Homo sapiens: one gene and its partners. The main gene of each other region encodes a partner of the protein of the gene in region 3 in a complex. Each region holds a gene or a part of one and is shown on either strand. Other genes may lie near its edges.

Region 1 (8,201 bases), on a different chromosome or scaffold from region 3:
CTAAATATCTTACAGTACTAGCTATCTCTCCCTAGAAGGTTCACTCCATAAGAAGTGACTTCTTTCATTACTGTATTCCCAATTTTTACAATGATGTCTAACACACAGTAAAAACTCAATATTTGTTCAAAAAATGACTGACTACATAAAATAAAATAACATTTTGTCATTGTTTTCGAGATTCAAAATTTATCTTAACATGCATTGTTTAAAATATGCAAAACTGCCAACTATTCACAGGTAGAAAACACTATCCCTGTTTTAAGATTTTATACTTTTTAATTTTTAAGTGTTAAAATATTCTTCCTTTTTCAAAATGATGATCATAGTATATAGTAACTATTTTTTCTCAATGGCCTTATTTGCAAAAATGAGAAATGGTTAAAATCTGTCAGTGTCTAATAATTTTTTAGAAATTTTACTGTCTATGGAATCTAAAAATCTGGAAACTACTGACATATAAAATTAAAATAACTCATCAGAATGTCATTTCAATATCTAGCCCAACAGACCCATTGAAGCTAATTCTACCCTTCAAAAATCCTCTTCTCTAGTCAAGCCAGTATCTTTGCCAAGTTCATACCATGACTTTGATTCCCCTGAACCCTTCTTCTGAACTGACTTTCCTCATCATACCTCCTCTACAGCCTTCTCTTCCTTTATCTAAAATCTATCTAATATCACAAAGCCTTTCCTTACCACTCTATCCTACATTCATCCTTCTCTCATCTGAACACCTCTAACCCTTAATCTACGGCTTAAATCCAAACGCTAGTTTGGCTCAAGCTACCTAAGTAAGAATCACTTTGTGGAAATTTTTTAAAGGCAGTTTCCAGTATCCCGGTGCAGATTGGAAGAATTTCCAGGATTGGGGTACAAGAGCCAGTAGTTTTTAAAAGTTTAGGGAATGAAAAAAGTCTTATTAAATAAAAATAATTTGACCACAATAATAATAGTTACATGTTTATCCTAAATCTTCCTATTAAACATCAAATATGCATGTCCCGTGTATAACCATACATAAGAGCTTAATTTTGAAATAATTCATTTCAAATTCTATCATAACATTCTGACACAGATACACAGAGGCATTTGTGAAAATGGTGTATTATCACAGAAGGGCACATAATGTAAAGAAATTAATATTCTTAAGCTTAAGTTTATTCAAATGGGCAGCAATGAAATTTTGCTTTAAAAAAACAAGTTAACCCAAATATAGTTTACCAACCTGTTTGTTGTTCTCCGCCATAGAAAGCTGCAATGCCAAGAGCATGGAGTCTGCACCACATAGAGTAGTTCTCTCAGAGTTACAAAGAGCACGCCAATTTTTTCGAAACTCTTTAATCATATCCGAGACAGACTTCTGATTAAACACAGCCATTATCTTAAAGTAGGACAGAATACAAAGTTAAAGTATCTTATGTTAACCTGAAATTAACATTTAACATGTATAGGCAAGCACAGATAGAGAAAAACATATAGTGAATGAGAGGTCATTTCATATTTACCAAGATTGCTTTTAATTAAATTTAGGAAAACAAAATAATACAATTTCTGCGCAATCATATTTCCCTCCCCTTTGGTTTCTTAAGCCAAACCTTCTGAAAGAACAAAATGTAGCCTTCAATTCTGAAAATTCACACAAAAACAGACATGCAAATTTACTGCAAACTTATAATTACAAATATACCTAATTAAAGCTGTATTTAAATATATATATTTGTTTTGAGATAGGTAATAAGTCTGATAAATTGGGAAAAAAAAAAAAAAACCTAAAAAGCCAATTTCCTCCCATCCTACGTTGTCCCAAAAGAGGTGGCCTATTTTTCTACCCTTTTGAATCTGGACCAGGCTTGTGACTTGATTTAACCAATAGAATGTGGCAAGAATGACGCTGTGGGAGTTCTGAGCTTAGGCCTTAAGTGGTGTGTGCAGAAGTACTAATACAATAGGCCTGAATGCTCTCCTTTGAAGCTGGAGTCCAGTTTGGGAGCTTAGATTTCAGGAGTGTTTCCAGTAAGAGTGGTTCACTGTGCTAAACTGTTCATACAAACAATATAGTTTATGCTAAACACTTGCGAGTCTGGAATTTTGGTACATGTCAGACAGTGGATGCCTTTGCATTTAGCCCCCAATAAAAACCCTGGGCATTAAGTCTCTAATAAGCTTCCCTGGTAGACATTTCACATGTGTTGTCACCACCTATTACAACAGGAGGAATTGTGTCCTGTATGACCACTAGAGTATCACCAAGCAGTGTCCCACCCAAACTGCTGATCCACAGAATCAGAAGGAAATGGTTATTTTAAAACCTTAACTTTTGAAATGGTTTGTTACACCGTACTACATAACCAATAAAATAACTAATATTTAGGAGCTAACTTGGTGGAGATACTTTTCAAAAGCTTAATATTGATTACCTCACTCGACTGTCATAAGTGTCCAATAAGACAGGTCTGTTATTATCCTTATTTTACCTAATAACCTCCACGTCACTCAGCTTGTAAGTGGACAAACAGCATAAACTTAATATGTCTAACTCTATAAGCTGTGTTCTTAAAGCATCATGTTAAGTAACTTCTCCTGATGCACACAAAAGCCTTTCAAAATAATTTGAGGTAGTGCCAATGTTTCATATACCCAAGACTATATAAGGCATCCAATTCCTTTCTCTGAGTTTACAGACATGCCTGCTAAAAGTTTTTTTCCTACTTTAAGTACTCAAGTCTCAACATACTCACATGCCCATCATCTTATTTTGGGTATTTTCCTGTACTTATTCCATTTCCTGACTCCTTCTGCTATCCTTTTCTTCTATTTTTATGTGGCATAAACAGAATCCTAGATGTTTACTTTGGTTTGTATAATCAAGAGCAAAGATACATGCCACTTGCAATATAATTAAATTATAGACACAATCTATGATGCAACTTAAAGATACAGGTAGAAGATTAGAGATTAATTATTTACATAAATGCAAATCCTAGTAAATAGCTAAGAATTGTATTTCTCTTCAAAAAATCACCCTCATCTCTTGAAAGAAAAAAGAAAGTGAAGAACTGTCAGCTTCAGTGACATGGTCACTTTGCCTGAAATACATTTTTAGGAGTAAATTACTTACTGGTATTATTTAAAGGTAGTATTATGAGATTTGATTGCTATGAATGAAGACTCACTTGGGAATTAGGCCATTCTGAAATGTGGCTCCACCACTTACTGGCTGCGAGATCTTGGCCAAGTTACATCACCTTTCCCTGCCTCAGCTTCCTCATAATGAAAATGAAAACCCTATCCCATAGGGTTTTATGACAAGTCAACGACATAAACACAAGTAAAGCTTTTAGAACAGTGCCTGGCATGTATAAAAGCACATTAGCTATTATCATGCATTATGAGTTTCTAAGTTGTTTTGAGTTAAAAGTAAAAGAGCATTGCCTGGGCATGGTGGTTCACACTTGTAATCCCAGCACTTTGGGAAGCCGAGGCTCACCTAAGGTTAGGAGTTCGAGACCAACCTGGCCAACATGGTGAAACCCTGTCTACTAAAAATTAGCTGGGTGTGGTGGTGTGTGCCTCTAACCCCAGCTACTTGGGAGGCTGAGACAGGAGAATCGCTTGAACCAGGGAGGCGGAAGTTGCAGTGAGCCAAGATAGCACTACTGCACTCCAGCCTAGGTGACAGAGTGAGACTCTGTCTTAAAAAAAAAAAAAAAAAAAAAAAAAAGAGCATTACTATGGTGACAGAAAACCAAGAGTCTCATTCAGGGATCAGCTAATTTTTTCTAAAGGAACAAACAGTAAATATTTGAGGCATGCACAACTACTCACTTTGACCTTCTAGTGTGAAAATAGCCATGGACATACATAAACAAACAAATGAGTATAGCTGTGCTCCAATAAAACTTTTTTTATGGACACTGAAATTTGAATTTCATGTAATTTTTACACATCACAAAACATTATTCTTTTCATTTTTTCCCCCAACCATATAAACACGTAACACTCCTTCTTAGCTCAGGAGCTGGCTGCACAAAAACAGGCAGCACAGCCAGTTTGCCAACCCCTGGTCTAGTCCCAGCTCTTCCTGTAGCTAGCTGGCTGTGGGAGCCTATGCCATAAGCCTTACACGTGGTTCCTAGGTGGAGGCATCATCACACAGAAATACTTGCCTTCCAGTCCCTTGTGAGAAGTCAATGAGACAATAAATATGCAAGCACTCTGAATGGCAGGCTGCACTATACAAAAAAACAGTAGCCAAAGGCAGCAGCGATAACACTTGTTTTTAAAAAATTGGATTCCAAGTTGCTCTAGAGCAAAAACTGTGAGACAGAAAATTGTCACTGGGCAGGCAGTGTGAAATGGTTGAAAGAACTACACTTCCGAGTCAGATATCACTTCCAGGCTCCCCCTTTATGACCTGTAGTCCTTCGGTATTTAAAATCTCTAATGAGCATAAGTTTCTTCACCTGCAAAACCAGGAAGGGAATTCCTACCTCACAGAATGAGACGTTAGTGAAACAAGTACATAACCCACCTAGTGCCAGGCATTTAGTAGGTGCTCAATTTAAAAATTGCACTCAACATCATTATCAGTGTTCGAGTGCAAGTCCCAAAGGTTCCTTGGGAGGCTGTAACTAATCAGGAGTAGGAGAAAGTTGAGGAATTGGAGTCCGTGTACATAGTGGGACTAGAACCCAGGTTTCCTGCCTAACTAATGGAAGTTAAGCAGGCCTCTACGGGCCTGTCTTCCAAGCTGCAGACGAACCCTCAGGACCTACCAGCTCCATCGCTAGATACTGTGAACTCCGCCTACAGCCCCCAGGCCCAACCAGGCTCGAGCGTCAAGTCACTGCACCATAATACTTCGGTCCCACGGCACTTTGCTACGACCGAGGTATTACAGTGCAAAACACCCTCAAAAGCCACAGCCTGAATCACCACTTAAAAATGCGACAGGGCAGGTAGGGCAGACGCGAGACTTACGTGATTAGGGGTAGACCCGAAGACGTACTCTTCAGTGTGCGGAAGGATCCCCAACGGGATGCCCTCCCGCGGCCGCCGCAGTCGCCGCTGTCGCCGCTGAATACAGTTCAAACCTCGCGGGAGGCCCCGGGAGCCAATCGCTGCGCTCGCCCTCCGACCCGGAAGCAGAGCCACAGCGCGTCGCGGCAGCCCCCAAGGAAGACCAGCCTGCCTCTGGTCGGTTCCTGGCGCTCTGCGGTGCGTATCGAGCTGGGAGCCCGAGAGGCCGGGATGCTTTTCTGCCGGCCGCCCAGCCTTGCCACTCTATTCCCAGGAGTTCTTCCTTCCCACTTCGGGCCCCGGGAGGTGGGAGCGGGGTCTTGAGGAACTCGCCTGGCCCGGGGAGAGGTGTCGGCGCTCATTGCAGAGACTTATCTTGTTCCCTCCCTTCTTCTCTGCCGTTGTAGTTTTACAGGGGCAAGTCCTGTCCAACGTGTACGGTGAGGCCCCGGCCACTGCTTTAATGAGCAGTAGGTGTAGGGACGGAACAATTTCGTGACCTCGAATCTCTTGCACTTCTATACCTCTCTGTCTCCGTGTCCATAACACTTGCTGGTCACCCTTCAAAAGTCTCCAGTCCCTGATGTCCATTCCTAAAGTTACTAGTTTATAAGCGTCTCGAGGTGGGACTCATTCTCAGTACATACTCTTAAGGTGCTTGATATGTTTGTTACTGAGTCCAGCTGTTTTCAGGACAACCCTTGTGTCGAATTTTTTAAAAAACCAAAAACTCTAAAACCCATAATTCTCATGTGGGAATGCTACTTCCAGAATGCACACTAGTCCCTGACAGGTTAAGGTCTTCTGCCTAGTTTTAAGAATATTATTATTTTAATTTTTAAGTTCCGGGATACGTGTGCGGGACGTGCAGGTTTATTACAAAGGTAAAACGTGTGCTATGGTGGTTTGCACACCCATCACCTAGGTATTAAGCTCCACATGCATTAGCTATTTATCCTGATGCTCTCCCTCCGCCCAACCCCCTGAACATTATTTTTATATCACACATTTTGGTACTCCTTAACAACAGATCCTGTATTTTCTATCTGTTTATATTATAGCCCTTTTCACGTTGAGTCATAACTATCCCTAAACTGTGGTCTCCTTCAAGCCAGGAGGCTGTTTTTTTCTTCATTAGCGCTGGTTCTCCACACACAATGAAGTCTTCCAAATCCTGGCCCTGCTTATGAGCTTGGCAAGTTAGTTAACCTACTGAAGCCTCAGTTTCTCCATCTACAAAATGGAGACCAGAGGTAGTACCTGCCTTTAGATTTGTACAGATACCAGATGTGATCATGTCAGTAAAATGCTTAATATGGTACCTACAAATAGTGGTTCATAAAAGTTATTAATTTTTATTAACATTTGCTGTTAAAATGATTCCATCTTCAGATGAAATACTATTTGTTTTAGATAATCTAAACAGAACTTTGCAGTGTTATTGTCTGCTAGAATCACAGATATGGGAAAGAGCTGTGGAGCAAATGTGGAACCATTAATAACTAGATTTAATATTTTTCCTGCAGTTTCTGTCCCTTGATAAGTACTTTAAATGTTTCTTTTGAGCTTTCTGTCTCATTGTAACACCACAACCTTATTTTGATGCATTTGCTGAATGACTAACATATTGACCATTGTAATTGTACCTGTGCTCTAATCCACAGTTTCGTGACCTTGTCCAGTAGAAGGCTATTTAATTTTCACAACTGCTTGAATTTTGACATACAAGATGAAGCAAGATGCCTCAAGAAATGCTGCCTACACTGTGGATTGTGAAGATTATGTGCATGTGGTAGAATTTAATCCCTTTGAGAATGGGGATTCAGGAAACCTAATTGCATATGGTGGCAATAATTATGTGGTCATTGGCACGTGTACGTTTCAGGTTAGTCTACAAAACTGCACCGAATGACAGTGAACATATTTCACTACTAAGAGAACTTACACAAACCAAATCTAAACTTTGAAAGTATATTGAGTTTGAATGTTAAAAAAAAAAAAGATAAGATCCATAGAGAAAGATGTTCCCAGTTATATGTGCCTGAGATTTATGTAAACATTATATAGATAGTGAAAAAGAATGGTATGAGGCTTCACTTTTGCCTCATGATCATTAATGGAATATTCTGATAAGTGAAGGCTATGATTAACTGAACATTGGTATGTACAGGAAAAAAACAATATAAATGAGATCCAATTAATTACGGTTTTTCTACATCCTGCTTTGACATACAAAACCAGCTAATGTTGAGAGCCCAAAAAACAATCTTCCAGGAGATTTTATAGCTTTTATAATATTCAGCTTTCCTATTAGTATGCTGTCATACTTTTTGTGCATCTAATGTATGCAGAATATGGAGTCATATTAATTGAGCAGGCAGTTAAGCATAGCCATTAAGAGCATGAATTCTAGAACTGGAATGCCTACATGTTTACTCCTGCTTTACTTACTTCTTACTAGCTATGAGACCTTGAATAAGATATTTAGCATCTCCTGTAAACATGAGGAAACTAATGCTTGAATTTTAGTATATGTAAATATACTAAATAAAAATTCCAAGAGGGCATCTGACAACATTGTAATCCATATGTATGTTTTAGTTGTCATTGATACGAGCAGTGGTAACACTCTCAGGTTTAATCACCAAAGTAAGATTGCTTTGTGGTGAACATAAACCATGTTTTCCCAGAGGAAAGCTAGTTTTACATGTAAGAGAGACTTGGAACAATGAAGGTTCAACCCTCAGGACTATCTGGTTAATCCTTTGTCTATCAGAGTATTATTATTATTTTTATTTTTTTTTTTCAGACAGAGTTTTGCTTGGTCGCCCAGGCTGGAGGTCAACCTCGGCTCACTATAACCTTCATCTCCCGGGTTCAGTTGATTCTCCTGCCTCAGCCTCCCAAGTAGCTGGGATTACAGGCATGCACCACCACACCCAGCTAATTTTTGTATTTTTAGTAGGGGGTTTCATGATGTTGGCCAGACTGGTCTCGAACTCCTGACCTCAAGTCATTTGCCTACCTCGGCCTCCCAAGTGCTGGGATTACAGGTGTGAGCCACCCTGCCTGGCCTAGCAGAATATTATTAATAGAACCGTATTTCTCAAATTATAATGAGCACGGTAATTTGGAAGTGTCCAATTTTCAAAGATTTAAAATAACTATCACTAAAGTGA
Region 2 (7,258 bases), on a different chromosome or scaffold from region 3:
GAACAGGGGCAGCAGGAACCGGTTTTAGTGAATGAAGTAACCCTCAAAGGCAAGGCGTAGAATCAGCCAGTTGGGAGAGGCTGCTGCCCTCTCTGTTGGAAGGCAGGGAGAAGATACAAGGGAGTCGGGGAAGCAAAGGGCCCCTTGGGACCAGCGGGGGAGGCACAGGTCGAGGGGTTGAGTTAATTTATAACATTTAGAAAGGAATTAGGCATACCTTTTCGTCAAAGTCAGGGGCAGGAAGAGAAGCCAGATGTAGGGTCAGAAGATTGTTGATGTGGACATGAGGCAAGATGGTGGCACTTGTAACAAGCCGTGGTTCAGAATAGTTGCTGTCTGGCTGGCTGTGCCTAGTGATGTATGAAATATTGAAGAGTGAATTTTTGGTTGAAGGTGGTGATGCAGAGAAGGAACCAATAAGAACTGGCCCTTGTTTTCCTGCCCACTCACCCTGTGACCTTGGACAGATCATATTCTCTTGCCTCAGTTTCCCCATCCATAAAATTAAGAAATTGGATGAAATTATTTCTAAAATCTTTGCTCTCTGAAGGTGGCCATGAAGGAGATTCTAGATACTGCATAATTATCCGCAAATGTCCTGATCTTTCATGAAGTTATTTCATAAAGCACCCTGAACCTTTTCAGGATAATTTCCCTTTGACCAGAGTTAAGATGAAAATATGATTCAGTCAATTAAGTACATTAAGGATTGATTATTCATTTTACAAAGAGATACATCACTTTACCAAAAAATTCTTTTGAATGGTAAGATGCCATGATGCATTTGAAATAACCCGTTTTGCAAAAATATGTTCATCTCCAGCTCTTCGAGAGCATGTAAAAGGACGAACATTTGCAGAGGTGAAAGTTTAGTGTGACATTAAATCCCAGCATCGCTCTTTACCTGCTAATTTGCCAGTTAGTATTTCACATCATTTAAGTTTCTGCTCAAATGTGATTTCCTTGGGGAGTTCTATCTAAAAATAGTTCCACCATCAGTCTCTGTCCTCTTATCCTGTGTTATTCTTTATACCAGATGTTTTATCAGATATTTGTCTCTTTCTACCACTGGAATGCGAGATCTATAAAGATAGAAATTATTTTATTCATGCTGTAGTCCTGGTACCTAGAATAGTGCCTGGCATATGAGAAATGTTCAGTAGATGTTTGTTGAATGGATGGATGAATCTCACTCCATTTCAACCTCTAGCAAATAGACGTTGAATCCAGAAGAATTTCCAGGATTCTTATTTGGTGATTTCTAGGGTCCAAGGACTATCAACTGGTGACGTGGTCCCGGGATCAGACCTTGAGAATGTGGCGGGTGGATTCCCAGATGCAGAGGGTATGTATGCAGTGCTATTGTGGAGAAATGTACCTGAATCCACCAAAAAGTGTAAGATTCAGGATTTGCGGAAATTAGAGGTTACAGGATAAACAATTTTTTTTTTTTTTTTTTTTTTTTGAGAGTGCGTCTCACTGAATCGCCCAGGCTGGAGTGCAGTGGCACGATCTTGGCTCACTGCAACCTCTGCCTCCCGGGTTCAAGCGATTCTCCTGCGTCAGCCTCCTGAGTAGCTGGGATTATAGGCGCCCACCAACACACTCGGCTAATTTTTGTATTTTTAGTAGAGACGGGGTTTCACCAAGTTGGCCAGGCTAGTCTTCAACTCCTGACCTCAAGTGATCCACCTGCCTCAGCCTCCCACAGTGCTGGGATCACTGGTGTGAGCCACCTTCCCCGGCAGGATAGACATTTAATACATACTTACTGGTTGGCTGAGTAGCTGGTGTGTACCACACCAAGGCTTTGAGGTCTTTAAGAACCAACTTCAGTATTCAGCACTTTAAGGCCAGAGAGCCTCTAAATGTCTTTCCCCTCCTTATTCTAGCATAAGATAGTATGGGTAGCTCCCTGAGTATGTGCCCTGTGGGTTCATTTCTTTCTCTTCTAAATGGGCTAAGAAGCCTACCCTTGTACGCTGCAAATGCTTGGAGGCTTCTACATCTATCAGCAACACTGCTTTTATGAAGCTGTTTGTAATTTTTTCCCGATAAATGATATCTGTTTCTTACATGAACCACACACAGTAGTACCTGGCATGAGCTGCTTTGGTGGCCCTTGCTCTGCTCTGCCTTATCACAGGGTTCTGTCCTCTCCTCATTTGATGGCTAAATTTCTTGACAGTGGGAAGGTGTCTCACTTGTATTGGATCTCCCACAGCGCTTGGTACATTGCTTTGCACAGAATGAATAGAAAATACTGGATAAAAATTTCAACACTGCTTAGTATGAAGTCACTCTTGAGCAGTTTGATCAAATCTCATTACCTTATTGCATTTTCAATCTGTTTTTTCCAAAAGGTACAATTTGCACCAAATGCCTTGAGGTTATGGTTTTCGTTTTTTTTTTTTTGAGATGGAGTCTCTCTCTGTTGCCCAGGCTGGAGTGCAGCCACGTGATCTTTGCTCACTGCAACCTCTGCCTCCTGGGTTCAAGTGATTCTCCTGCCTCAGCCTCCCGAGTAGCTGGGACTGTAGGCGTCCGCCACCATGCCTGGCTAGTTTTTGTATTTTTAGTAGAGACGGCATTTCACCCTCTTGGCCAGGCTGGTCTCAAACTCCTAACCTCAGGTGATCCACCTGCCTCGGCCTCCCAAAGTGCTGGGATTACAGGCATGAGCCACTACGCCTGGCCGGTTATGATATTTTTGCTCCTGGATTAGCTGAATAACTCCATCAAAGCTTGGAGTTTAAATTAATTTTTTTTCTGAGGCTTGCATAAACTCTGAACATGATGAAAAAATTTCCAGTGTTGAATAATAGAGTCTGTTATCCCTGGTGTTTAACCAGGGAGAGTTGGCAATGGGTAAAATCTATTTTGATTATGTCAGCTCTTGGCTGACACATCCCCATCCTTTGCCCTTCCCATTTTTAAGTCAGAACTCTTTAATCAGACATGACAATCATTTCCACGGACTTCTCTAGAACTACATCTTCTACCCTTTGTTGCAGCTTTGTGCAAATGACATATTAGATGGTGTTGATGAGTTCATTGAGAGTATTTCCCTTCTGCCGGAACCTGAGAAGACCCTGCACACTGAAGATACAGATCACCAGCACACTGCAAGCCATGGGGAGGAAGAAGGTAATTTGTCAAACTGATGTCTCAGGTAAGGTGCCACTCTACGCATTGCAGAGTTGTGGCAGATACCCCAGACCTGTTCTCTGTTTCATTTTCAAAAATGCTTTCCAACATTGAACTTCTCTCTCCTGCTAGCCCTAAAAGAAGATCCCCCTAGAAATCTCCTGGAAGAGAGGAAATCAGATCAACTGGGGCTGCCTCAGACCTTGCAGCAGGAATTCTCCCTGATCAATGTGCAAATCCGGAATGTCAATGTGGAGGTACTTAGTTTAATCAACTGTATCTCATGTTTGCTGATGGCAGTTTGTGGGAGAGGGAACCATTTCAGCAATGATTTCAGTTAGCAAATAGCTTTGCAGCTTTAACAGAACTCTCTCTGCTTGCTTTTTTATTTCCTGGGTTTTCTGGCCAGGCGCGGTGGCTCACGCCTGTAATCCCAGCACTTTGGGAGTCTGAGGTGGACAGATCACTTGAAACCAGGAAGCCAGGAGTTTGAGACCAGCCTGGCCAACATGGTGAAACCCTGTCTCCACTTAAAAAAAAAAAAAAAAATTAGCCTGTAATTCCAACTACTCGAGAGGCTGAGGCACAGGAATCACTTGAACTTGAGAAGCAGAGGTTGCAGTGAGCCAAGATCGCACCACTGTCCTCCAGCCTGGGTGACAGAGCAAGACTCTGTCTCAAAAAAAATAAATAAAATAATTAAATAAATAAATAAATAAATAAGTAAATAAAGAGATGCAGACTTTCTTTCTACCCCTATTCTTTTCTCCTAAGATGAGCCAAAGGAGAACCTGATGCTCGTGTGCCTTAGCTCCTCCTTAGATGCTCCAGCATCTCATTTTACTGTAGAGGAAGATACTTAGGCCCTGGAGGCTTAGTGATTTGGCAGAGGTTGCTGCTGAAGTTGGGGACAGAGTTGACTTGGGAAGCCAAACCTCCAGCCCGTCCAGGGCACTCTGTGCTGTGCTGTGCTGTGCTGTGCTGGGCTGTGCCATCTTCTCTCACAGGCTGGCCATTTCCTGGTAATTTAGATTCACAGTAAGAAGGCAACCAAAACTTCTTTGTTTGCTTAGCCTGTGGAACAGTTACTTTTTTGGGGGCAAGTATTGAAAGTCTTTGCTTCAGAAAATTGAGTATCTCTCCAGAAAGGAGTTTTAAAGCTTGATTAGTTTTTCCTTTACCCAAATATGTGCTGTTACATAACTATCTCATGTGGCTTTTAAAACAAGTCTGCTGGCCAGGTGCGGTAGCTCACGCCTGTAATTCCAGCACTTTGGGAGGCCAAGGTAGACGGATCACAAGGTGAAGAGATCGACACCTTCTTGGCCAACATGGTAAAACCCCGTCTATACTAAAAATACAAAAATTAGCTGGTCATGGTGGCGTGCGCCTGTAGTCCCGGCTATTCACGAGGCTGAGGCAGGAGAATCGCTTGAACCCAGGAGGCAGAGCTTGCAGTGAGGCCGAGATCACACCACTACACTCCAGCCTGGCGACAGAGCAAGACTCCGTCTCGAAAAAAAAAAAAAAAATAGTCTGCTGTAAGTGGTTTTAGCCTCACTTTACAGCTGAGGAAACGGAGACATCAAGAGAAGAAATGTCCAAGGTCAGCAGCTATTTGGTGGAAGAAACAACATGTGAATCCAGGTCTCCAGATTTGCCACATGTGGTTCTTTTCTCTTTACTCCAGCTGCTGTCTCTAGTTGGCAACACAAGAAATGAAAAGATATAAAGGATTCTTTGCTTAATTAGTGATCTATATCAAGTCAGTTTATACTCCCTTTGTCCCATTTGAGGACAGTGTGGATACCTAGTGATCTAGTTTAAGATCTTGATTCCTTTCTTCGAGAGTACTTTAAAAAAATTATTGAGATATAATTCACACAGTATAAAGTTCATCTTTTTTTTTTTATTGAGATGGAGCCTTGCTCTGTCCGCTCAGACTGGAGTGCAGTGGTGCTACCGTGACTCACTGCAGGCTCTGCCTCTCGGGTTCACGCGATTCTCCTGCCTCAGCTTCCCAGATAGCTGGGATTATGGGCGCACGCCACCACGCTCAGCTAATTTTTTTTCGTATTTTTAGTAGAGATGGGGTTTTTGCCATGTTGGCCAGGTTGGCCTCGAACTCCTGATGTCAGTTGATCTGCCCACCTTGGCCTCCCAAAGTGCTGGGATTACAGGCGTGAGCCACTGTGCCCAGCCAAAATTCCGCTTTTTAAAGTATATAATCTGGCTGTTGTGGGTATATTCACAAAGTTGTACAGCCATTACCATTGTCTGATTCCAGAACATATTCATCATTCCCAGAAGAAACCCCATACCCATGAGCAGTCACTCCCTATTTCCCCTTCCCTCAGCCCGTGGCAATCCCGAATCTACTTTCTTCCCCTATGGATTTTCCCAGGAGCACTTTTTAAGTTGAGTCTGGTATTTAACTTCTTCCTGCTTTATTTTCCCATCTCAAAGTAAATATAACAAGTTTCAGTCTACCCCACAGCTTTGGGAGGGAGGAAGCTTTGTTAAAGTCAGAATACTTTGAACTTCGTGGTGGCTCATGCCTGTAATCCCAGCACTTTAGGAGGCCAAGGTGGGTGGATCACTGGAGGTCAGGAGTTTGAGACCAGCCTGGCCAACATGGCGAAACCCCATCTCTACCAAAACACAAAAAGCAAAACAACAACAACAACAACAAAACAAAGATTTGCTGGGCATGGTGGCCTGTAGTCCCAGTATTTGGGAGGTTGAGGTGGGAGAATCACTTGAACCCAGAAGGTGGAGGTTGCAGTGAGCTGAGATTGTGCCACACTGCACTCCAGCCTGGGTGACAAAGTGAGACCCTGTCTCAAAAAAAAAAAAAAAGAATACTTTGTGTTGGGAACAGGCCCCCTGAAATCTGGCCATAAACTGACCCTCTGTGTTGTTTGTCTTTGTGTAGTCTGCAGATGTGGATCTTGACTCCTGCAAGAAGTAGCTCACCGTGACAAAGCTGCCTTTGCTTTTATCACTTTGCAAATCAAAGAAGGGGGACATGTTGGGAACAGGCCCCCCCCCCCCCCAAAATCTAGCCATAAACTGGCCCCAAAACTGGCCATAAAGTCTCTGCAGCACTGTGACATGTTCATGATGGTGGTGATGCCCACGCTGGAAGGCTGTGGGTTTACCGGAATGAGGGCAAGGAACACCTGGCCCACCCAGGGCAGAAAACCGCTTAAACACGTTCTTAAACCACAAACAATAGCATAAGCAATCTGTGCCTTAAAGACATACTCCTGCTGCAGATAGCTAGCCACAGCCCATCCCTTTATTTCAGCCCATCCCTTTGTTTCCCATAAGGAATACTTTTAGTTAATCTATAATCTATAGAAACAATGCTTATCACTGGCTTGCTGTGGATAAATACATGGGTAAATCTTTGTTCAAGGCTCTCAGCTCTGAAGGCTGTGAGACCCCTGATTTCCCACTCCACACCTCTATATTTCTGTGTGTGTGTCTTTAATTCTTCTGGCACTGCTGGTTTAGGGTCACCCCGACCGAGCTGGTCTCAGCAACTTTGAGCTTATTCCATTGGTTTGAAAATTTTAAGAATCTGGTATGAAAATTTAAGAATCTTTTTGAAAATGAATTGTCTTCCACACACATTTGTCTTTGTAGACTCTTTCCCTTCATTCAATTACCAGGAACATGGAGCGTTCAGTTAAATGTGCTTGCATCGAAAGACGCTTTATGGTTTGTTTCTACAGCAATTGTGGATTTGTCTCTTGCAGATGGATGCGGCAGACAGGAGCTGCACAGTGTCTGTGCACTGCAGCAACCATCGTGTCAAGATGCTGGTGAAGTTCCCTGCACAGTACCCAAACAACGCCGCCCCTTCCTTCCAGTTTATTAACCCCACAACCATCACATCCACCATGAAAGCTAAGCTGCTGAAGGTGGGGGTCTGGGTTCCCAAATTCTCCTTGCTGTTCTGCATCATTGTCTAGATGGATTAGTAAAGAAGAATGAAAACTCCAGTAGATGAGATTCGGAAGTCATCTGTTTCGTACACACACTAGTATTAGCAACGTAACCTCTGAACTTGCCATTTACTTTGTGCAGAAAACATCAGAGCAGT
Region 3 (7,258 bases):
GCACCACAGGCTGATTTTTTTATTTTGTAGAGATGGGGTTTCACCATGTTGCCCAGGCTGGTCTTGAACTCCTGGACTGAAGCAATCCTCTCACCTCGGCCTCCCAAAGTGCTGTGATTATAGGCGTGAGCCACTACGAGGGCCATGATGCAATTTTTTATTGTGGTAAAATATGTATAACATAATATTCCTCATTTTAACTTTTTTTTTTTTTTTTTTTTTTTTTTTTTTTTTTTTTGAGACAGAGTCTTGTTCTGTCACCCAGGCTGGAGTGCAGTGGTGGGATCTCGGCTTACTGCATTCTCCGCCTCCGGGGTTCAAGCGATTTTCCTGCCTCAGTCTCCTGAGTAGCTGGGACTACAGGCATGTGCCACCATGCCTGGCTAATTTTTTTGTGTTTTTAGAAGAGACAGGGTTTCACCATGTTGGTCAGGCTGGTCACGAACTCCTGATCTCAAATGATTCTCCTGCCTTGGCCTCCTGAAGTGCTGGGATTACAGGCGTGAGCCACCATGCCTGGCCCATTTTAACTATTTGTAAATGGTATAATTCAGTAGAATTAATTACGTTCACAGTGCTGTGTACCCATCACTGTTATCTGTACTCAAAACTGTTCATCACTGCCAACATAAACTCCATATTTTTAAAGAATGCCTCCCCCTTCCTCCTCCCTCTACCCCCTATTCAACTGTCTGTCTATAAATTTGACTAGGTACTGCATGTAAGTGGAATCACAGTATTTGTCCATTTGCAACTGGCTTATTTCACTAAGTAAAATGTTTTCATGGTCTGTCCATTTTGTAGCATATATTAACTTTATTCCTTTTTATGGCTGAGTAATATTCCATTGTGTGTGTATACCACATTTTGTTTATCCATTCATTTGTAGATGGACCCTTGGGTTGTTTCTACTTCGTGGCTATTGTGAATACTGCTACTATGAGCATTGTTGTACAGATAAATGTTTGAGACCGTGCTTTCGATTCTTTTGGAAATATACCTAGGAGTAGAATTGCTGGCTCATATGGTAGTTCTATGTTTCACGTTTTTAGGAACTGTCAGACTTTTCCATAGCAGCTACACCATTTTACATTCCTACCAGCAATGCTCAAGGGTTCCAGTTTTTCCAAATCTTCATCAGCACTTGTTGTGGTGCTATTTATTGTAGCCATCCTAGTGACTGTGTTGTGAAGTGGCATCTCCATTGTGGTTCTGATTTGCATTTCTCTAATAATTACTGATGTTGACCTTATTTTCATGTGCTTATTGGTCAATTGTATGTCTTCCTGGGGAAAATACTATTCATATCCTTTGCCCATTTTTTTAAATTGGGTTTTTTGTTGTTATAGGAGTTCTTTATATATTCTGGATATTAATCCCTTATCTGTTATAGGTTGAGTATTCCTTATCCATAATGCTAGGATCCAGAAATGTTTTGGATTTTGGATTTTGGATTTTGCAATATTTGCATTTATACTTACCAGTTAAGCATTCGCCTACTTATTTATTTACTTAATAGAGTTGCCCAGGCTGGTCTTGAACTCCTGGGTTCAAGCGATCCTCCACCTTGGCCCCCCAGAGTGCTGGGATTACAGGTGTGAGCCACCGTGGCCAGCCCCAGTTAAGCATTCTAAATCCAAAAACTTGAAATTCGGTATGCTTCAATAAGCATTTTCTTTGAGCATCATGCCAGTGCTCAAAAAGTTTTGGAGTTTGGAGCATTTCAGATTTCAGATTTTTGGATTTGATATGCACAACCTGTAAATGATTTGCAAATATTTTCTCCCGTTCTGTGGGTTGCCTTTTTCACTCTTGATGGTTTCCTTTGATGCACGAAATTTTAAAATTTTGAAGTCTAGTTTATCTAAATTTTTTTCTTTTGTTTCCCATGCTTTTGGTGTTATATCCAGGAAAGCATTGCCAAATCCAGTGTCATGAAGACTTTCCCCAATGTTTTCTTCTAAGATTGTTATAGAATCCTCAATTCAGGCTTGTATCCCCAATGTGGAGCTGAGAGCAAACACTGAGTCACCGGTACTTGGAGATAGAGAAAGGTTTATTCGATTTGGCTAAAGCAAGAAGATGGGAGGGCAAGATCTCTCGAATCCATCTAAACAAAAGGAAGCATTGGGTAGATTTTATGTGACTAGATCTAGTAAGGGAGGGGGAGTTTCACAGAATCCAGTGGAAAAGTCTGTGTTTCTTTGGTCTCAGGTAACGCCTTGAGCAACCAGATGTCTGGTTGTTAGCAGCTGGTCACAGTGTCCTTAAAGCCATTCATTTCTTCTGGCAACATTTTTCTTTACATGACGCTGAAGTTATCTTCTCTTGATTGACAAAGAAGCAGTACATCAACAGTTTATCATTATATTGTGGCAACAAGGGATATTCAGCAAAAAGTGAGTGGTTAACATGCGCAAGCAAGCAAGGGCCTGATACAAATTATTTATTTCAGTCATTAAAAAATGTTAGGGTGCTGAAATCTAGTTTTCCCAGCACCATTTCTTGAAAAGACCATTCTTTCCCCTGTTGAATGGTCTTGACACCTTTGTTGAAAATAATGGCTATATATATGGAGGATTGCATTCTGGGCTCTCTTGTGGACATTTATCTGTATGTCTCCTTGTCCTAATAGCACACTGTTTTAATTCCGGTAGCTTTGTAGCTTGAGTGGCTATTCAGACTGTTTTACAGCTCTTCTCAGGGGAGGAGTATGTCTGATTGCCTTTGCACTAGGGCTTCCCTAAGCCAAACAGCTGCTTATGGGGAGGAAGGAATAGAAATTTATAGAATTATAAAAGTTTTTTTGGCGTTAAGTCTGAGGTGTGTCAGTTCAGTATACTATAGATTGGATTTGGGAGTGGTGGCATAAGAAGGACTTTTCTTTGAATTTCAAGATACTTATTTGTATTTAGTTTAGTCATCTTTCATTAATATATTAGCAGTGGCAAATCCATATGGGTCTGCAGCAGCCTCATTTCTTGCCTCTTCAAAAGAAAGAATTCCACCTAGGGGCATAAGGCAGAGTAAGAGACTAAGATAAGTTTTAGAGCCAGAGTGGAAATTTGTTAAAAAATTTTACAGCAGAAATGAAGTAAAATACATTTGGAAGAGGGCCAAGTGGGTGACTTGAGAGAGTCAAATGCATGGTTTGATCTTGGACTTGGGTTGTTACACGTTGGCATGCTTCCCAGGGGTTGCGTCTCTTCTCTGATTCTTCCCTTGGGGTGGGCAGTCCGCATGTGCAGTGGCCCACTAGTGCCTGGGAGGGGCTGCGTGTGCAGTGTGTTTACTGGAGTTGCGCAGATGCTCACTTGAGGCGTTTTTCCCTTAACAGAATGTTCCTAGAAGGTCATAGATCAGTTAAGCTCCACCATTTTTCCTCTTAGTGCACATGCTTGAGCCCAGTCATCCAACTCCTCAGATCTTATCAGGAAGCTGCTGATCACCAGTTTCAGGTGTTTCTATCTGTTGGGAGACTACCTTTCCCTGGCACTGGCTGCAACCAATGATTAGTTTAGAGAGAAAGTTTAACAACTGCCTGATCATCACCTGATGGTTGCTTGACATTCCTGGTGGGGTGGGGTCCTCTGCTGCCCTGCTCATGTCTGACTACCTACTGTAACAAATGCATTTATTTTCTCAACATTTGTGTTTGTATTAATTATTCAGTGGTGTCTGTAGACAAAAGTTTGCTAAGATGTTATCTTTGAAGTTTATGTAATATTATCCTTTTAATGTTGAGACTCTTTAAGAAGGATTTTGGTAACCATAGACAGTAATCTGTTGATTGCTAAACTTTATTGACTTAGTTTTTTTTTGAGACAAAGTCTTGCACTGCCACCCAGCCTGGTGTGCAGTGGCATGATCTCGGCTCAGTGCAGCCTCCGCCGACCACACTCAAGCGATTCTCCTGCCTTAGCCTCTCTAGTAGCTGGGATTGCAGGCGCCCGCCACAATGTCTGGCTAATTTGAATATTTTTAGTAGAGATGGGGTTTCACCATGTTGGACAGGCTGGTCTTGAACTCCTGACCTCAAGTGATCACCCGCCTCAGTCTCCCAAAGTGCTGGGATTACAGGCGTGAGCTACTGCACCTGAGCTTATTGATGTTTTTAGTAAAGTTTCATCTTATCTGTGTGCCAGAAGATAACTTTTAAATGTGATGTTGGAATTTTACAGTGATCATAAAGCTTGCTTTCTACCATTCTTTTGGTCCCTGTTAAAAGCCTTCACTTAAAAGTGCATGGTAGCTGGGTGCAGTGGCTCACACCTGTAATCCTAGCAACTCGGGAGGCTGAGGTGGGAAGATCAGTTGAGGCCAGGAGTTTGAGACCCATCTGGGCAACATAGTGAGACCCCCCCATCTCTATAAAAATAAGAAAAATTAGCTGGGCATGGTGGCAGGTGCCTGTCATCCCAGCTACTGGGAAGGCTGAGGCAAAAGGATCACTTGAGCCATGATCATGGTACTGTACTCCAGCCTGGGTGACAGAGCAAGACCCTGTCCCTAAGAAAAAAAAAAAAATAATAATAATAGTGGTCCAAATGGGATTAACAGAAAATTATTCTTGAGAGAAGAAATTGCATGCCTTTCTTTTTTTTTTTTTTTTTTTTTTTTTTGAGAGAGGGTCTTACTCTGTCACCCAGGCTGGAGTGCAGTGGTGCGATCTTTGCTCACTGTACCTTCTGCCCCACTGGCTCAAGCGATCCACCCGCCTCAGCCTCCGGAATAGCTGGGGCCACAGGCGTGCACCACCACACCTGGCTTTTTTTTTTTTTTAGTTTTTAGTAGAGACGGTGTCTTGCCATGTAGCCCAGGCTGGTCTTGAACTCCTGAGCTCAAGCAGTCTGCCTGCCTCGGCTTCCCAAAGTTTTGGGATTACAGGTGTAAGCCATCACGCCCAACTCATTTACAGTTAAAGGGTCTAATGCTTGCAGCATGCTTTGTGTGACAAAACTTCTTGTCTGAAAATTCTAACATTTTCTTTTTTTTTTGTGATCAGTTTGCTTAAGAGAGATTACTTATATAACAAAGGTAGGCTTTTGGAGGTAGACTTTTTTTTCATTAAAGGGAGTAATTAATTATAGCTCACTAATTTGTTAGTGATTCCCAGCTATATATGTGGTATTTTGCCATGTACTTGTAGGAACTTGTGGCCCAGAGATGTATCCAAGCTTATATACCTAGTGAATGATAGAGGAGTTTCTGTGTGATTCCAGAGTCTGTGTGTCTTTTCCACTCTACCATGCTTTCTTTTTGTATATAATTTAAATTGTTATTATTTTTTTTTTAGGTTAAAAGGACAACTCTGGTGGATAGCAGAACATCTGTTACTGATGTGAAGTTTGCTCCCAAGCACATGGGTCTTATGTTAGCAACCTGTTCCGCAGATGGTATAGTAAGAATCTATGAGGCACCAGATGTTATGAATCTCAGCCAGTGGTCTTTGCAGCATGAGATCTCATGTAAGCTAAGCTGTAGTTGTATTTCTTGGAACCCTTCAAGGTAAGTTTACATATTAAACCTCTGATAACATCCTAGTAAAATAAACTAGTAACTTTTAAGCTAACAATTTGATAATTTATTCTCTCAAAGGTGCTTCTTCTCAAGATATATAGAGTATATGTTCTCCATTTTTCACCCAGGCATGTCATTTGTCCCTGTTTTCACTCAACAGAGGAAGCCGGCATTGTAAATATTTTCATGTGAACCTTTTGGATGTTTTCTATGCATATGCAAATAACTATTTAATGTTGTCATAAACACATATATGCAAACACGCCCAGATATTCACTAGCACAAGTAGACACAGAACACCAGATATTGAAACCCATACATTTGATTGATTGATTGATTGGTTGATTGAGACAGAGTATTGCTCATTTGCCCAGGCTGGAGTGCAGTGGCACCATCTTGGCTCACAGTAGCCTCCACCTCCTGAGTTCAAGCAATTCTCCTGCCTCAGCCTCCCAAGTAGCTAGAATTACAGGCATGCGCCACCACGTCTGCCTAATTTTTGCATTTTTAGTAGACATGGGGTTTTACCATGTTGGCCAGACTGGTCTTGAACTTCTAACCTCAGGTGATCTGCCTGCCTCGGCCTCCAAGAGTGCTGGGATGACAGGCGTGAGCTGCTGCACCCAGCCAGAAACCCTTACATTTTCCTTCCTTGCAATTAGCTTTTTTCACTTAAAGATACATTGTGGGCATTTTTCCATATATTAATATATCTAGTCTTACCTCATTTCTTTTTAACTGCTGCATAGAGCATGACTATATGAATATTACCATAGTTGCTTTTTATTAAACTGTTTTTAAACAATTATAAGAATCACTTGGTGAAGAAAAAAATTGAAATAATCCATAAGAATACAAAAAGAAAGGTAAAGTTCCTTTACCCCCTAAAAACAAATGCTGTCAATAGTTCTGTTTTCAGACTTTAATTCTGGTAGTCACTAGTATATTTTTAAAGGATTTACTTATACCTTTGGTTCTTGCTATGTTATCTTTTTTTTAAAAATTTTTATTCTGCTATTTTTCCACATGTTCTTGCTATGTTATCATTAAAGAATATCCAAACTGATAGAAAAGATGAATAGAGCACATTTATACAACTTCCACATCCCAAGGTATGACTAGATAGATATCTTATTTGTGGTGATGTTGATAGTTGTTGGAGTTATACTGGTAATTATTATAATTTCAAATAATATATATATCTCTACACATATTTATCAATTTTTAGACTATATATTTACTCCCGTCTCTTTTTTTTTTTTTTTTTTTTGAGATGGAGTCTTGCCCTATTGCCCAGGCTGGAGTGTGGTGGCATGATCTCGGCTCACTGCAAGCTCCGCCTCCTGGGTTCAAACGATTCTCCTGTGTCAGCCTCCCAAGTAGCTGGAATCACAGGTGCCCGCCACCACATCTGGCTAGTTTTTTTTGTATTTTTAGTAGAGACGGGGTTTGTCCATGTTAGCCAGGCTGGTCTTGAACTCCTGACCTCAGGTGATCTGCCCGCCTTGGCCTCCCAAAGTTCTAGGATTACAGGTGTGAGCCACTGTGCCTGGCTTCCCCTCTCTTAAAAAAGAGGGAATTAGTTTATTGCTTCCCCCTCACATTGCCCCTTCCATTTCCTCATTCTTTTTTTTTTTTTTTTTTTTTTGAGGTGGAGTCTCGCTCTGTCACCCAGGCTGGAGTGCAGTGGCGCAATCTAGGCTCACTGCAAGCTCCGCCTCCTGGTTCAAGCGATTCC
Region 4 (7,488 bases), on a different chromosome or scaffold from region 3:
ACCTGAGGTCAGGTGAGATCAGCCTGACCAACATGGAGAAACCCCGTCTCTACTAAAAATATAAAATTAGCCGGGCGTGGTGGCACGTGCCTGTAATCCCAGCTACTTGGGAGGCTGAGGCAGGAGAATCACTTGAACTCAGAAGGTGGAGGCTGCGGTGAGCCGAGACTGCGCCACTGCACTCCAGTGCGCGGGCAACAAGAGCAAAACTCCATTTCAAAAAAAAAAAAAATCACTTCTCAAACTAAAGTTCTTTACCTGGTTATTTGGATGGTGAAGGAAAACTGTTACACATCCTGTTGATGAAGCAGCGACAATTCTTTCCTGGTCAAAAAACTAAAGAGAAAATTTCTGCTTGTTAAAGATTCAGAAATATTAGCAGGGAGGAAGTCCATTTGTTTATTTAACTCAATTAGTAGCAAATCTTATAACAATTTTAAAAAGCAAAGAGCCATGAGTGCTAAGGAAATAAAATGTGTTAATGAAGCTGAAAGGCCAAACTGCCATACAAAGTATTTTCATGAATAAACAATATTTTTTCCTAGACACATTCACCCACAATTGATTTAATTTGGGACCAACACAATAAAACCTTAGGAAAATATTATTCCTGGCTGGGTGCAGTGGCTCACGCCTGTAATCCCAGCATTTTGGGAGGCCTAGGTGGACGGATCACTTGAGCTCAGGAGTTCAAGACCAGCCTGCGCAAGATGGCGAGGCCTCGTCTCTACAAAAATACAAAAATGAGTTGGGGTTGTAGGGAAGTGGAGGTTGCAGTGAGCCAAGATTGAGCCCCTGCATTCCAGCCTAGTTGACAGAGCAAGACTCAGTTTCAAAAAAAGAATAAAAATTTTAAAAAAGAAAAGCCAGGCACGGTGGCTGACGCCTGTAATCCCAGCACTTTGGGAGGCTGAGGCAAGCGGATCACGAGGTCAGGAGTTCGAGACCAGCCTGGCCAATACGTTGAAACCTCATCTCTACTAAAAATACAAAAATTAGCTGGGCGTGCTGGCATGTGCCTGTACTCCCAGCTACTCAGGAGGCTGAGGCAGAAGAATCACTTGAACCCACGAGGTGGGGTTGCAGTGAGCCGAGATCGAGCCACTGCACTCCAGCCTGGGTGACAGAGCAAGACTCGTCATAAAAAAGAAAAAAAAAAAAGGAAAGGAAAATATCGTCTGGGCATGGTGGCTCACACCTGTAATCCCAGCACTTTGGGAGGCCAAGCCGGGTGGACCACGAGGTCACGAGTTCAAGACCAGCCTGGCCAACATGGTGAAACTCCATCTCTACTAAAAATACAAAAATTAGCCAGGCATGGTGGCATGTGCCTGTTGTCCCAGCTACTCGGGAGGCTGAGGCAGGAGAATTGCTTGAACCCAGGAGGCAGAAGTTGCAGTAAGCTGAGCTCTCGCCACTGCACTCCAGCTCGGGTGACAGTATAAGACTTCGTCTCCAAAAAAAAAAAATGTATCTTTCCTAGAGCTAGATAGCTTTCTTTTTTATTTTATTTATTTATTTATTTATTTATTTATTATTATTATTTTTTGAGACAGAGTTTCGCTCTTGTTGCCCAAGCTGGCGCACTCTCGGCTCACTGCAACCTCTGCGCCCGGGTTCAAGCGATTCTCCTGCCTCAGACTCCAGAGTAGCTGGGATTACAAGCGCGCACCAGGGCTAGGTAGCTTTCTATGGAAAATGCAGGGGCTCTCCACACCAGGATTTGAAAACTTAATTTCGGCCGGGCGCCATGGCTCACTCCTGTAATCCCAGCACTTTGGGAGGCCGAGGCAGGCAAATCACCAGGTCAGGAAATAGAGACCATCGTGGCTAATATGGTGAAACCCCGTCTCTATTAAAAATACAAAAAATTAGCCGGGTATGGTGGCCTGCGCCTGTAGTCCCAGCTACCCGGGAGGCTGAGGCAGGAGAATCGCTTGAACCCGGGAAGCGGAGGTTGTAGTGAGCTCAGATCATGCCACTGTACTCCAGCCTGGGTGACAGAGCGAGACTCCATCTTGGAAAAAAAAAAAAAAAAGAAAACTCAATTTCATCCCCACCACTCATTACTGGTTTTGAGACTTTGGCCAAGTTAAGTTCACTAAATCGTGGTAAATCTTTAAAACGGGAGCACTAATCTCTACTTAGGGAGTTGTTATGAGAATTCAAAAAACAAAATGATGTTATCCCCCTGCACAGTATCTGTCACATAGTACATGCTCAAGATATATTAGTCTCAATTTTCTCATTAGTAAAACAAAGTAACGATACTTGATTCACTGGCATGCAACAATAATTAATTTTTGTAAAGCTCCCCAAACGGTATTTAGCACATAGTCGACAGTCAATTAATAAAAAAGTATGATTAAATCTACATCCCCTTTCCCAGTCCTTTTTCTGCCACTAAATGGCTAAATGATGTTGGGCAAATCATAACTTACAGAGCACTCAGTTTTCTGTAAACGAGGGGTGACACCAGACAACTTTTATGATGCTCTGCTTGTTTAAATGTATTACTCAGGACTTTCAAAGTTAGCTTTTGGATGCTACACAGATTTACCTGTAAATCCATTACATCACCATGGTGTCTGATATCACACAATAACTGATGGTCTCCTTCAAACCCTCCATCAGAGTCCAAGTTTCCAAAATCTCCAATAGACCACAGTGAAATATAATTTTCCTGTAAAACAGAAAGTTTTGTCTTGAGATGACATAAACGTCAACTCTCGGAAAATAAAAGTTGTGCTCCCGTCCGGAAATGTTGCTCCAAAACATCTCAAATGGTATGGTGAGTTTAAAACACAACGAGATACGAGGCTCAGGCATGCCATCACCGGCTCTGAGCTACGGAGCAACCGCGCCTGAGACAGGGGTCCGGGGGACCTAAAAGTGCGAGAAGAACCAGAAGGTGGGAGTTGGCGCGCGGAAGGCCAGGGGTCAGCTCAACCGGAGAGAGGGAGGAGGTAGGGGCTCGTCCCTATCAGCGGCGATACCTCATTGTCCCAAGATCCTGTAGCGAACGTCTCCGCGGTCTGTAAACTTCCCGGAGGCAGCGGTCGCCAGCGGGTTTTGCTGATTTTCTGGGACACAAACTTCGCATAAATTTCCTCCATGCCGAAAGCGGCCGCAGCAGGTACTGCAAAAAGCAAGCACAGTACGCGCCTCTCAGCACCGCCTCTTCCCGCGGAACCCTGATTGGATGGGACTTTAGGACGGAGACGGTGGCTGCAGAGAGTCAATTCTCGTCGATAGCCAGTGTGGGCACAGTCAGTACCTAGACTGAGAGGCCCACCCATCTCACAGAGCAGCTCTGAGCAAAGGCAAGAGCGCTTTGGCCTTTGAGCAGTAGGACTTGCTCCTAATCTGCAATGTCAGTATTTTCTTGTGTTCAATAATTGTGCAGTGTAAAATTTAAGTGCAAAAACAGAACAAAAACAATGCAGTAGAAACCACCTTGAAACCACACCTAAGCAGTTGCAGGTCACTGCGCATAGAAAACGATTCAAAAATCCTTAAATACTCGTGGAAGTACCTCGAATAAAGTGCCAACCTACTATCCCAAACCTCTCCCTCTTGTCTCCCAAACAAATACTTTGCTTCAAAGTTAATACACACTGTCAGAGCCTGGAGTTGGAATTCTGAAAGACTCCAGTTTTAGTTTTGATGCCAATTGCCTAGCTTTGATCAATTCAATTACGTGCATGATTAAGAATGAAGTTTGTGATACCTATTGTCAACGGCCCAGGAATCAGTTTTCTAGGTTCCTTCTGTGCTTTTGGTTACACCTATAATATTCTTCCCTTCCTCTTTACTCCTCAGAATCCTGCCTATCCTTCAAGGATCTGTTCTTTCCTTTACCATTTCCTGACGACCCCAGCCAATGTTGATCTAAATCAACACCATTTTTTTTCTTTTTTAAGACAGGGTCTCTGTGGCCCAAGCTGGAGTGCAGTGGTACAATCTCAGCTCACTGCAACCTCTGCCTCCGCCTCCCAGGTTCAAGTGATTCTCCCACCTCAGCTTCCAGGGTAGCTGGGACTACAGGTGTGCGCCACCATGCCTGGCTAATTTTTTTTTTTTTTTTTTGGAGAGACGGGATTTCACCATATTGGCCAGGCTGGTCTCGAACTCTTGACCTCAGGTGATCCAACTGCCTTGTCCTCCCAAAGTGCTGGGATTACAGGCGTGAGCTAGCATTTGATATCTAGACCACTAATGACATATATTTTGGATATATCTTATGTTAGTTTTCTTTAGATGCATATTCCTCCCCCATTAGAATGTAAATCCTACTGAATACAAGAGATATGACTTATTCAACTAAAAAATGAAGCTCTTTTACACTATAGGTATTCATAACTGTATGTTGGTTATTTCTTTAAAAAGGGCCATTATGCTACTGTTGTTTTTATGTGATATTGGTAGTCCTACTTCACAGGGACAGTTTACGGAAGCACTGCATGTAAATGCAATCCATCTGGGTCAGCTTTAGAGTTACCAGTTTCCTATCAAGGATTTGACTTTTTTCTTTTCTCCAAATGGAAGATCATCAAGAAACTGTAGAAAGATGAAATGGAAAATATTAAGTGGGTTACAGTCCCAAATCAACAATTTTATTCATGTTTAATATTGAAGTAAAGAACACTGTTTTGGCCAGGCACGGTGGCTCACGCCTGTAATCCCAGCACTTTGGGAGGCCAAGGCAGGCAGATCACGAGGTCAGGAGTTCAAGACCAGCCTGGTCAACATGGTGAAACCCTGTCTCTACTAAAAATACAAAAATATTAGCTGGGCATGGTGGTGCGTGCCTGTAATTCCAGCTACTCGGGAGGCTGCGGCAGAATTGCTTGAACCGGGACCTGGGAGGTGGAGGTTGCAATGAGCCAAGATCATGCCACTGCATTCCAGCCTGGGCTACAGAGTGAGACTCCGTCTCAATCAAAAGCAAAAAAACAAAAAGAAACCAGTTTTGCCTGTAGTTTCATTTATGGTCACATAATCCCAGAAAATAGGTAATGTTGATTTTGGATTGGAAGCAGGCCAGTGTCACATTTTACAAAATCGGATAAGAACTAGAATTTGAAAATTGTGCTGATATAGTGGCACAGATGTCTTAGCTTTGTTTCCTTCTAAAAGATTACTGGAGGCCGGGCGCTGTGGCTCATGCCTGTAATCCCAGCACTTTGGGAGGCCGAGGCGGGCGGATCATAAGGTCAGGAGATCGAGACCATCCTGGCTAACACGGTGAAACCCTGTCTCTACTAAAAATACAAAAAATTAGCCGGGCGTGGTGGCGGGTGCCTGTAGTCCCAGCTACTCGGGAGGCTGAGGCAGGAGAATGGCCTGAACCTGGGAGGCGGAGCTTGCAGTGAGCCGAGATCGCGCCACTGCACTCCAGTCTGGGCGACAGAGCGAGACTCCGTCTCAAAAAAAAAAAAAAAAAAAAAAAAAAAAGTTACTGGACTAGATGATGGCTGGATTCTGTCAGTCTCAGGTCTAATTAGGAGTCAGCGATTTGGACGCGACAAGCAATGTTCTCAGTGAGCTTCTCACTCATGGTCTTGCAGAGCTGAGAGCAATAAAGCCACGGTGGAATTTGTGAGGCTTAATTAGGTGGAAATGCACACTTACGTCGGGAGAATAACACGTTCACCAAAGGACACAGTGGTATTTTTTAACCAATCGCAACTCTGTACGTTGGTATTATTCTAAGGGAGCAAAGCTTTGCCCCAACCCCCACCCCCATGTCCTGGTACTCTTCCACTCTGAGAGCTTTAGAACCGGGGTTCCAAAGTCTCTGCTTAGCCTAACAGTGACGTGCTTGTCACAAAGCCAGAGGCCGGTGTACTCGGGTTAGAGAGGGCCTTTGTCGTTGGGTTTTATTCTTATTGTATTATTCGGGCTCCACCGACCCAAATATTAGTCAACTGGGTTGGGCGAGGTAGGACGGATGAAGCCCACCGTCTAACAATCTGGACATCTATAGGAGCAGATCCGCCGCTCGAAACAGCTGACCCAGCGACGACTGCGGAACCACTAGCAGCGTCTGCACAGATCGACCCCGCCATCCCGCCGTCCCGCTCGGTGACCGGAGACACAGCCGGGAACGCGACTGATCAGGCTACCGAGCCGGGCCGCAGGGCGAAAGCGGTGCGGTCCGAGGCCTCAGAAAGGGACACGCAGCAGCGGAAGTGGCGCTGACTCAGCCCGGCCTCCCTGCAGTCCCCTGGCAGCGGTAGCAGCCACAGGGGCGGGCGGCTGGGCCACACGCCTCCCCCGCCCTCGGCCCCACCCGGCCGCACCCTAAGCCGCGCGGCGTCACAGAGCGCATGCGTGCCGCGGGGGATGCCGGGAGCGCGCAGTGGCGGCAGCGGCGGCGACGGCAGTAACAGCGGCAGCTACAGCGGGGACGCGAGCGGGGCGGTGACGGTGTGGGAGGTGGTCTCACTCTTGGGAAAACTGCTGGGCACCGTCGTCGCGCTGAAGGTGGTTCTGTACCTGCTCCGAGTGTGCTTAGCGATGGCCTGGAAATCCGGCGGCGCCAGCCACTCGGAGCTAATCCACAATCTCCGCAGTAAGTGCCACCTCCGCCCGTTGTAGGGCAGCTGGGGCAGGCTGGGCCTGGACCGGGTCCCCCTGGGCCGTCCGGAACGTTCTGTCTGTCCCCGCGCGCCTGTTGGAGGGCTTCGGCGCAGAGTTGCCCCGGTAGTCCCGAACGGCGTGCGCTTGCAGTCGCCTCCCTCGGGACCTGTCACTCGTCGACGACGTGGACTGGAAGGGGAGAGAAAGAGCCAGGGGCCGCTGCTGGTGGGGGCAGGGGCAGTCGTCTCCCTGCAGGCCCTGGGGGAGGGAGTGCAGTACAGGTGATGCTGCTGTCACTCAGGTCCGCGTCCGGGTCCGGCTTGTGAGGGGCGTGCCTTCGGGGTGGGAGCGTGTGGGCTAGGCCTTATGGAGAGTGGGCTGGCGCTCAGGAGACCCCACCCTCGTCCCCTGCATTTTTCTCACCTTCCTCCTCCATAATCAACCTCGCTGCAAGCTTTCCCTCTTATGCAGCCTCCCCCGCCCTCCGTTTTTTCCCCTGGAGGGAGATGCCACCGTCTGATACAGGCGAGGGGAGGAAGATGAGAGTATTGCCATTGCAGATGCTGGGAGAAATTTCTCGGGCGGCTGTCCAGTGGAAAGCTCCGTGCGGGGCGGAGAAAGAACAGGGGATGCTGTTCCTGAGAGACTTGTATTTCAGGAGCCTTTGCAGGTCCTGGATCAGCAGAGGGTTGTGTGTCTGATGTTCTAACTTTTTTCAGGGCTACCATAGGCTTTAAAAACCTTATGTGGAGTTTCTTTATATCACTCTCCTTAGTTACTGTATTCCTTCTTCTGATGATAATTTTAGGATAGGATGAGTGCTGTGTCACTTTCTTTTTTTAAATCGAAATATAGCGTCCCCGTTTTGTTGGGAGACTACAAGGGCCGCAGTCTATAATAAAC

The links.
Region 1: SEH1L (region 3) and NUP37 share a complex: the UniProt entries of both Homo sapiens proteins name them as parts of the nup107-160 subcomplex of the nuclear pore complex.
Region 2: the proteins of SEH1L (region 3) and WDR59 are in contact, whole or in part, in a cryo-EM structure (PDB 7UHY), measured with the Homo sapiens proteins. Residues at the interface, in NP_112493.2 of Homo sapiens: Asn308, Tyr309, Met310, Asn312, Lys314; in NP_085058.3 of Homo sapiens: Pro713, Asp714, Glu716, Thr717, Pro718, Arg721, Arg837, Glu840, Gln843, His844, Asn847.
Region 4: SEH1L (region 3) and NUP43 share a complex: the UniProt entries of both Homo sapiens proteins name them as parts of the nup107-160 subcomplex of the nuclear pore complex.

The regions. Positions count from the first base shown.
Region 1 is NC_000012.12:102,117,069-102,125,269, reverse strand, and holds the start of NUP37 (nucleoporin Nup37), read left to right. Parts: upstream 1-5,155; 5' UTR 5,156-5,220; intron 5,221-6,686; 5' UTR 6,687-6,751; coding exon 6,752-6,907; intron 6,908-8,201. Other genes in the region: PARPBP (PCNA-interacting partner), read right to left, coding at 1,229-1,381. UniProt on the Homo sapiens protein: Component of the Nup107-160 subcomplex of the nuclear pore complex (NPC). The Nup107-160 subcomplex is required for the assembly of a functional NPC.
Region 2 is NC_000016.10:74,912,016-74,919,273, reverse strand, and holds part of WDR59 (GATOR2 complex protein WDR59), read left to right. Parts: intron 1-1,265; coding exon 1,266-1,345; intron 1,346-3,014; coding exon 3,015-3,147; coding exon of another isoform or gene 3,148-3,172; intron 3,173-3,279; coding exon 3,280-3,404; intron 3,405-6,911; coding exon 6,912-7,076; coding exon of another isoform or gene 7,077-7,127; exon of another isoform or gene 7,128-7,157; intron 7,158-7,258. UniProt on the Homo sapiens protein: As a component of the GATOR2 complex, functions as an activator of the amino acid-sensing branch of the mTORC1 signaling pathway. The GATOR2 complex indirectly activates mTORC1 through the inhibition of the GATOR1 subcomplex.
Region 3 is NC_000018.10:12,957,864-12,965,121, forward strand, and holds part of SEH1L (nucleoporin SEH1), read left to right. Parts: intron 1-5,296; coding exon 5,297-5,508; intron 5,509-6,572; coding exon of another isoform or gene 6,573-6,632; intron 6,633-7,258. UniProt on the Homo sapiens protein: Component of the Nup107-160 subcomplex of the nuclear pore complex (NPC). The Nup107-160 subcomplex is required for the assembly of a functional NPC.
Region 4 is NC_000006.12:149,743,380-149,750,867, forward strand, and holds the start of NUP43 (nucleoporin Nup43), read right to left. Parts: upstream 3,151-7,488; 5' UTR 3,117-3,150; coding exon 2,997-3,116; intron 2,684-2,996; coding exon 2,561-2,683; intron 337-2,560; coding exon 259-336; intron 1-258. Other genes in the region: PCMT1 (protein-L-isoaspartate(D-aspartate) O-methyltransferase), read left to right, coding at 6,349-6,577. UniProt on the Homo sapiens protein: Component of the Nup107-160 subcomplex of the nuclear pore complex (NPC). The Nup107-160 subcomplex is required for the assembly of a functional NPC.